Homo sapiens: one gene and its partner. The protein of the gene in region 1 purifies or fractionates together with the protein of each later gene. This does not show direct contact. Each region holds a gene or a part of one and is shown on either strand. Other genes may lie near its edges. The genes, in order: THBS4 and ITGA5.

Region 1 (3,758 bases):
AAGAGGTGGGAGAGAAGATATTCAGGGTCAGACCACCCGGACAGGACAGTAGGACCAAGATGGGGATAGAAGGAGCAGAGCTGAGGGGACGACCCAGCGTTGTGGGGTTGGTGCATTTGGATGGCTGTGCCCTTCTGCCATGCTCTGCAGAGAAGCCTGAGGGTGGACATGCCAATCGGTATGAGGTAAGAGGTGTGGCAGGGTCTCTTCTCCACACCCTCCCCTGTGGCACCTCTGGGCCCTGTGTAATCACTTACTAGTGCACATTTCACCCTGACTGCAGCACTATGTCCCTTACAGTCTGTCTTCCCTGCTGGATCACAAACTGCATGAGAGCAGCGCTTGTATCTTTTTTTTTTTTTTTTTTTTTTTTTGGAGACGGAATCCCACTCTGTTGCCAGGCAGGAGTACTGTGGCGTGATCTCAGCTCACTGCAACCTCCGCCTTCCTGGTTCAAGTGATTCTTCTGCCTCAGCCTCCCGAGTAGCTGGGATTACAGGCACGCGCCATCACGCCAGGCTAATTTTTGTATTTTTAGTAGAGATGGGGTTTCACCATGCTGGCCAGGCTGGTCTTGATCTCCTGACCTCGTGATCCACCCGCCTCGGCCTCCCAAAGTGCTGGGATTACAGGCATGGGCCACTGTGCCTAGCCATAGCTTATTATTTTATCTTGATCTCCCCAGTGCCTAGCACAAAGCCTGACATCTACTACACGTGGCATGAACTGATCATCATGTAGGCCAAAGTAGTCTGACTTCTTTCTTTATAGGACTTTTTTGTTGTTGTTTTTTAAGTATTCTCGGGAGTTAGGAGGCTTAGGGCTGTGTCTTTGAAATGTAGATAGTGTTCTTCTTCATTTGAACTTGCAGATCAACACCCATCCTAGCCTATGTAGGATATTTAGGAAGGAGTACTGAGTGCATTCTCCTCATCAGGGCAGGAAAGCAGCCTTGTGGAAAAAAGAAAATCATGAGGGCAAATTCATGTTTTGTTTCTCTTTGTGACATTATGTCAAATGTACTCTTTTTGTCTCACAGTGAGATGATCATGTTCTCAGCCCTATTAAGCCCAATGCCCCTTTTTTATTATAAATATTTTGAAATGCCCCCTTTTCCGTCCCAAAATGGAATCATAGAAATTACAACCTACCTACACGTATAATCTAGAAAATCAATGTGAGCCCTAACAATATCATAGAGAAATAAGAATAATTTATAACAAAATAATTTAAATATTTGAGCACAGCCACACCAGAAGACAAAATGAAACAGACACTTGCACCCATGCCTAGAATCACTACGAAGGTGACATTCTAACAGACTGTTGTGTCAGTGACTTAAATGTTTGTTACACTGGTTGATGACAGCAATGTAAATTTCTCAAATGGTACACATTTTAGAATGTTAATTTTCAAACAAATTTTCTCAATTTACCCTGGAAAATATAGTTTATATTAAAATTTGTGCAAAATATACTTGCTGTTTACAAGTGAAAGTGAGTCAGGTTCTAGGCCCTGATAGTTGCTCTTTACCTACCCTGGTGTCTGAGGAACACTCCAGAAGTGTATGGAATGCAGGACAGGTTTTGATTGTTCTCGCCAGGGCATTGCTCGCCATCCAGCATCCCTGGCTGCCATCACTCAGTGCCACTGTGACAACCCAAAGTGTCCCCACAGATTCCTCCAACTCTACTTAGGGAGTGCTGTCTCCTGTGGAGAATCATTGCTCTGAGATTCCACCAAAAGATATAAATCAGACCAAAGGAAAAGCCAAAGTTTTTAAGCATGGTATCTAGACAAGGCAACTCACATGACAATAAGACACAAAACTTTCTCACTCAAGATAGCAGGTTTGGTTTGGTTTGATTTTTAACTCAAGTTTGATAGTGTGACCAACATCATGTTAGGCCTTGTGAGAGACAGAAGTTGGGAAGAAACACCCCCCACCCCCCTCCACACACACACGGACACACACGGTCCCTGCCCTCAAGGACTTCCAGTCTAGTAAGTAAGTGGCAACAGCTACAGTACAATCCAGGTCAGCGAAAAATGGAGCCTAAAACAGAGCAAAGAAAGACGCAGGTACGTATAAGAAGTGGGGCCCCTGGGCCTCACAGTGGGCACTTTACCCCGGGTTGGATTTCATGGAGGCCCCTCCGGCCGTGTTGTCCGCAGGGTACGATTTTATGAAGGCTCTGAGTTGGTGGCTGACTCTGGCGTCACCATAGACACCACAATGCGTGGAGGCCGACTTGGCGTTTTCTGCTTCTCTCAAGAAAACATCATCTGGTCCAACCTCAAGTATCGCTGCAATGGTAATGTGCATTCTCGTTACTGTTCAACATTGTTACTAGAATTAGTCAAACACTGCCACCTTATTTTTATACCGCACTTCCCCCCCAAAAGCCCAACGCTCATACCACATAGTCATTAAAACCTGATAGTCCCTGTGTACCAGAAGTAAAAAGCAGATCACATTTATCCTATTTTATCCATGTGGAAATTAAGACCCATAGAATTTAACTGCATGGTTTAGGGTTTGGGGTTCAGTGAGAAATCCAGTCAGATTTAATTTACAGGAAGCCTTTATTTTCATGTGGTTAAAACATAATCACAGATGCAAAATCCATTCTGCCTGCTGATTTTCTGCACGGCCGGGAAGGAGCACTCCTGGGCTTTAAGCCAACGGTTTGCAAAGCAGCCTGCAGGAGAAAATGGCGGCGAGGGCCTGCGGGGCGTCCTGGGCGGGCTAACAGCGCCCCCTACAGGACGCCTGAGCCGCGGGCGGGGGTCCGGGGTCCGGGGTGGAAGGAGCCTCGCTAACCTCCCTGTGCCCATTCCTATTGCAGACACCATCCCTGAGGACTTCCAAGAGTTTCAAACCCAGAATTTCGACCGCTTCGATAATTAAACCAAGGAAGCAATCTGTAACTGCTTTTCGGAACACTAAAACCATATATATTTTAACTTCAATTTTCTTTAGCTTTTACCAACCCAAATATATCAAAACGTTTTATGTGAATGTGGCAATAAAGGAGAAGAGATCATTTTTAAAAACCGTGTTGCTCAGACATTGCTCTCACGTGGCTCAGGCTTTGAGGTGCCCGTTCTCGGAGGGATCCCTGTTAACTTGCAGGGTGGTAGTTTCTTCTCAGACCCGGTGGCCGATAAGATGAGCCTATGCGTGAATCACAAGGCCCAGGCCAGAGGTCTCAGCTGGGGTCCCCCCAGTTTGCTCCATACAAAACGCCTAACCGTTCCATGCTCACCTTGGCAGCCTCCTTATTTCGGGTAAGGGGTCTCAGAAACACGTGTTTGGGGTGGCACCTTCCCTAGGGAGGCGTTTTTCTGACCTAGTCCTGGGACAGATTTGCCCAATTCTTTCTGATGCTGTCATCCCATCCCACACCTTCCACAGACTTCTATTCTGGCCCCTTCAACGTAATTCTTAAGCTTATTTATATATTTGGCTCCCCCTAGTGGACTGTAAGCATATTGACAATAAAGGATCATGTCATTACAATCAATATCCCCACAGTACCTGGAATGTAGTAAATAGCCAGTAAATGTTTACTGAATTAATAAACGAAGAATGAATGAATGAATGCCTCTTAAAGGACAGTAGAGTGTACATGATCATAAAAGTCCTCCTCAACTCAAAAAGTCACAACATATCCTCTATTTGTGGTACCAGTAGCTGGATGTACAGCACAGAAACTTGCCTAATTTGTACACTAGCCTTTCTTGTATTTCAATTG
Region 2 (3,818 bases), on another chromosome or scaffold:
CAGAATTCGGGTGAAGTTATCTGTGGAGAGGTAGCAGGTGCCCACGGGGTCGCTCAGTGGCTCCTTCTCTGTGCGCCAGCTGTACAGTGGAGCGCATGCCTGGGAGGGCCCAGGAGGAGGGGCCTTCAGATTCAGTCCAATAAGGCCCTTCCTCCCTCCCTCCAGGCCCGGCCTTACCCAACCACTGCCCATCCCCTGGCCACCACACCACTGAGCTTGCTGGCCCCTCACCAAGATGGAGGAGCCATGGGCTCGAACTGTTGCCCCGAACCACTGCAAGGACTTGTACTCCACAGGCTCCTCTCCCTCTGAGCTGGACAGTGAGGACTCCAGGAGCCGAGAGCCTTGTGGAAGTGAGAAGGGGGAGTCTTACTGAGCCATGGACATTTGAGCTCTAGGGCAGCCCCTACCCTCAGCCTGGGGATACCCAACAAACGCTTCCAAGCCCTGAGACTCCATGACTCGCTGGGAGTGTGGAATTGGTAAGGAGCTTAATTCTGCTTTGTGTAGTCTGTTTGTGTAGCCTGACTTATCTCTCCACTACACACATACACATACACACACACACATACATACACACGCACGCACACGCACACAGAACCTGGGCTTTCTTTTTTTTTTGAGATGGAGTCTCACTCTGTCACCCAGGCTGGAGTGCAGTAGCATGATCTCGGCTCAGTGCAACCTCCGCCTCCCTGGTTCAAGGGATTCTCCTGCCTCAGCCTCCTCAGTAGCTGGGATTACAGGTGCGCGTCACCACACCTGGCTAATTTTTGTATTTTTAGTAGAGACGGGGTTTCATCATGTTGGTCAGGCTGATCTCGAACTCCTGACCTCATGACCTGCCCGCCTCAGCCTCCCAAAGTGCTGGGATTACAAGCGTGAGCCACTGCGCCCGCGTAGAACCTGGGCTTTCTAGAGTTGCCTCCCCAAGGTTCCTGCTTTCTCACCCAACTGAGACAAGGATGCCTGCTGTGGAGCAGGGGCAGGAGGATGGTGGGGAACAGTGGCTATTTCCCAAGAGAGTAACCCTTTGGCTGCACTTCTTTGTCTATACTTGGACTGTGTCTCTAACACCATCTTGTTCCACCTCCTTTTTTTTTTTTTTTTGAGATAGGGTCTCACTCTGTTGCCCAGGCTGGAGTGCAGTGGCGTGATTATGGCTCACTGCAACCTTGACCTCCTGGGTGCAAGTGATCCTCCCACATCAGCCCCCCAAGTGGGTGGAAACTATACCCAACTAATTTTTGTGTTTTTTGTACAGATGGGGTTTTGCCATGTTGACCAGGTTTATTTTAATTTTTTTTTTTTTTTAAACAGGGTCTTGCTCTGTCACTCAGGCTACAGGGCAGTGGGGCAAGTAGCACTCATTGCAGCCTTGGCTGCAGTGACGGAGAATCACTCAAGTGATTCTCCCACCTCAACCTCCCGAGTAGCTGGGACTACAAGTGCTCACCACTATGCCTGGCTAATTTTTTTTTTTTTTTTCTTGAGACAGAGTCTTTCTCTGTAGCCCACGCTGGAGTGCAGTGACATGATTTCAGCTCACTGCAATCTCTGCCTCCTGAGTTCAAGCAATTCTTGTGCCTCAGCTTCCCAAGTAGCTGGGATTACAGGCAAGTGCCACCATGCCCGGCTAATTTTTGTATTTTCAGTAGAGACGGGGTTTTGCCATGATGGCCAGTCTGGTCTCAAACTCCTGGCCTCAGGTGATCCACCTGCCTTGGCCTCCCAAAGTGCTGGGATTACAAGCATGAGCCACCACACCCAGCTCTGTCTAATGTTTTTGGTAGAGACAGGGTCTCACTATGTTGGCCAGGATGGTCTTGAACTCCTGGGACCAAGTGATCCTCCTGCCTCGGCCTCCCAAAGTGCTGGGATTACAGGCACATGCCACCGTGCCCAGCCTGTCCAGTTTTTATTTCTGGAGACAGATGGCCCTAGTTCATATCCTCTCTCCAATGTTTGCTAGCTGTATAACCTTGGATAAGCTACTTACCCTCTGTCTCCTCACTTAGAAAATGGGGATAATAATACCTTATACAGTTGTTGAAAAGATTAAGTGAACTAATATATGTAAAGTGTTCACAACTGGGCCTGGCACAGAGCAACTGATAGCTGTTAGTCTCCATCTTCCTCCCATCCATCTGTGTCTACTCAGACCTTGAGCTCCTTGAGGGCAGTGGCTTAGTCATCTTTCAGTCCCTGCAGCACCAGCACAGTGCCTGTCATGCACTGTCACTTAGTCAGTACTTAGTTAAAGGAACTGAATAGTTTGTGCAACATTCCCTGTCTTTGTCTGTGTTACGGCCCTGGCCTCCCAGAATTGTGGGTGATTCAGGGGAAATGAGAGCCACATGTTTCTGAATCATGCCCGTCCTCCTTGGGCTGGGCTGGATGGGAGAGTGGAGTGAGTGCCATGGGGATCCACTGTAAGCAGTTGGAGCACCAGAGCTGGTGCTGAGAGGTCACGTGGCCGGGGTTCCAGCAGGCTCCACCCCTCGCCCCAGGCCCCACCCAGGCCTTGCCCCCAGGCTGCAGTCCCACCCCCCAGTCCCTCCCTGAATTTCACTGGCCTACCTTTGCTGTCAAATTCAATGGGGGTGCACTGTGTGGGGCTGGCACCCCAAGGACAGAGGTAGACAGCACCACCCTGCAGCACTCCTGGCTGGCTGGTATTAGCCTTGGGTGCTCCCACCAGCACACTGACCCTGTGGGGGGGAAAAGCGAGGCAGTTGAGGATGGCTCCTAGCTTTTCATTGGTGTCTGGAGGCAGGAAGGACCCAGGCCTCTAGGCTGGGGCTGGCTGGGGGTGGAGTAGATGCCCCCTGCGTTGTATTTATATCTCAGAAGATGCCACAGATGCCAGAGGCACAGGCTGGAGTCAGGCGGTCCCCATGTGCCGCTGTCACTAACACAACCCTCCCCTCCTCCCGCCATTCTCTGTCCTCTCCTACCTTATCCTGTTCATAAAGAGAGGAGGAACCACAGTCAATTTCTAGAAGGGGAAGAGGGGCCAGAGCCTGTACCCCTGGCTTCTCCCTCTCCTCTACGTACCTGCTGAGATTAGATGTATAGCTTCTGGAGCGCCAAGGTCCTGTGGAGCCTCAGGGTCTCTCATCTAGCCTATATACTCTCCTCCCAAGCCAAATCCCCTCCCTGGGCCAAGACCCAGGCATCCGGCTGCCCAGCCACCCAGCCTTGGGGCGTGTAGGAGGAAAATGTGAGTCTTGGAAATCAGGCAGCAGGAGTGGAGAGAGGAGCTGGAGGACAGTGAAAACAGATTGTTCCACTGGGCCTGGGCCTGCCCTCACCCCGGCCCTGGTGTGGGCCTCCCCTTCCTGGCTGGGTCTGTGTTTCAGCCCTTGAACCCCTTTCCCATAGACCACCCCCAGCTGACTGAATTCAGAGTCTGCTCTACCGGGGTCCCAGTTCTGGACACAGTGCTTCTGTTCCCCCTGATATGAGGGGAAGTTTGCCCTGTGTAATGGGGTGGTCATAGCTAAGGGCCTGGGCAGTCCTCCTGCCGTCAGCTCTGCCTCATTCATCCCTAGGTCTCTTGCCTCCAAGACCTCCACACCGCTCTTGGCTCTCTTGGTTTCCCCTAAGGGTCTCCTGCCAGGACTTGTATCTGGCAGCCTGGGCAACTCGACCCAGCCTCTGGACCAGTGCTCCTGCCAGCCTTGGCCTCTGCTCTGCTCTGTGTCTGCCTCTGGCACTGCTTCTCAATCCCTCTGTCCCTCTGCCCCTATGACTGCTTGCTCTCTTGGTTTTGGTTTTTGAATCCTATCTCTCTATCTCAGATTTTACATTTCTCC

The links.
Region 2: the proteins of THBS4 (region 1) and ITGA5 purify together in Homo sapiens (co-immunoprecipitation; one study listed by IntAct). This does not show direct contact.

The regions. Positions count from the first base shown.
Region 1 is NC_000005.10:80,080,231-80,083,988, forward strand, and holds the end of THBS4 (thrombospondin-4 isoform a precursor), read left to right. Parts: intron 1-2,129; exon of another isoform or gene 2,130-2,175; coding exon 2,176-2,315; intron 2,316-2,849; coding exon 2,850-2,911; 3' UTR 2,912-3,057; downstream 3,058-3,758.
Region 2 is NC_000012.12:54,409,254-54,413,071, forward strand, and holds part of ITGA5 (integrin alpha-5 precursor), read right to left. Parts: intron 2,712-3,818; coding exon 2,581-2,711; intron 483-2,580; exon of another isoform or gene 345-482; coding exon 232-344; intron 100-231; coding exon 1-99.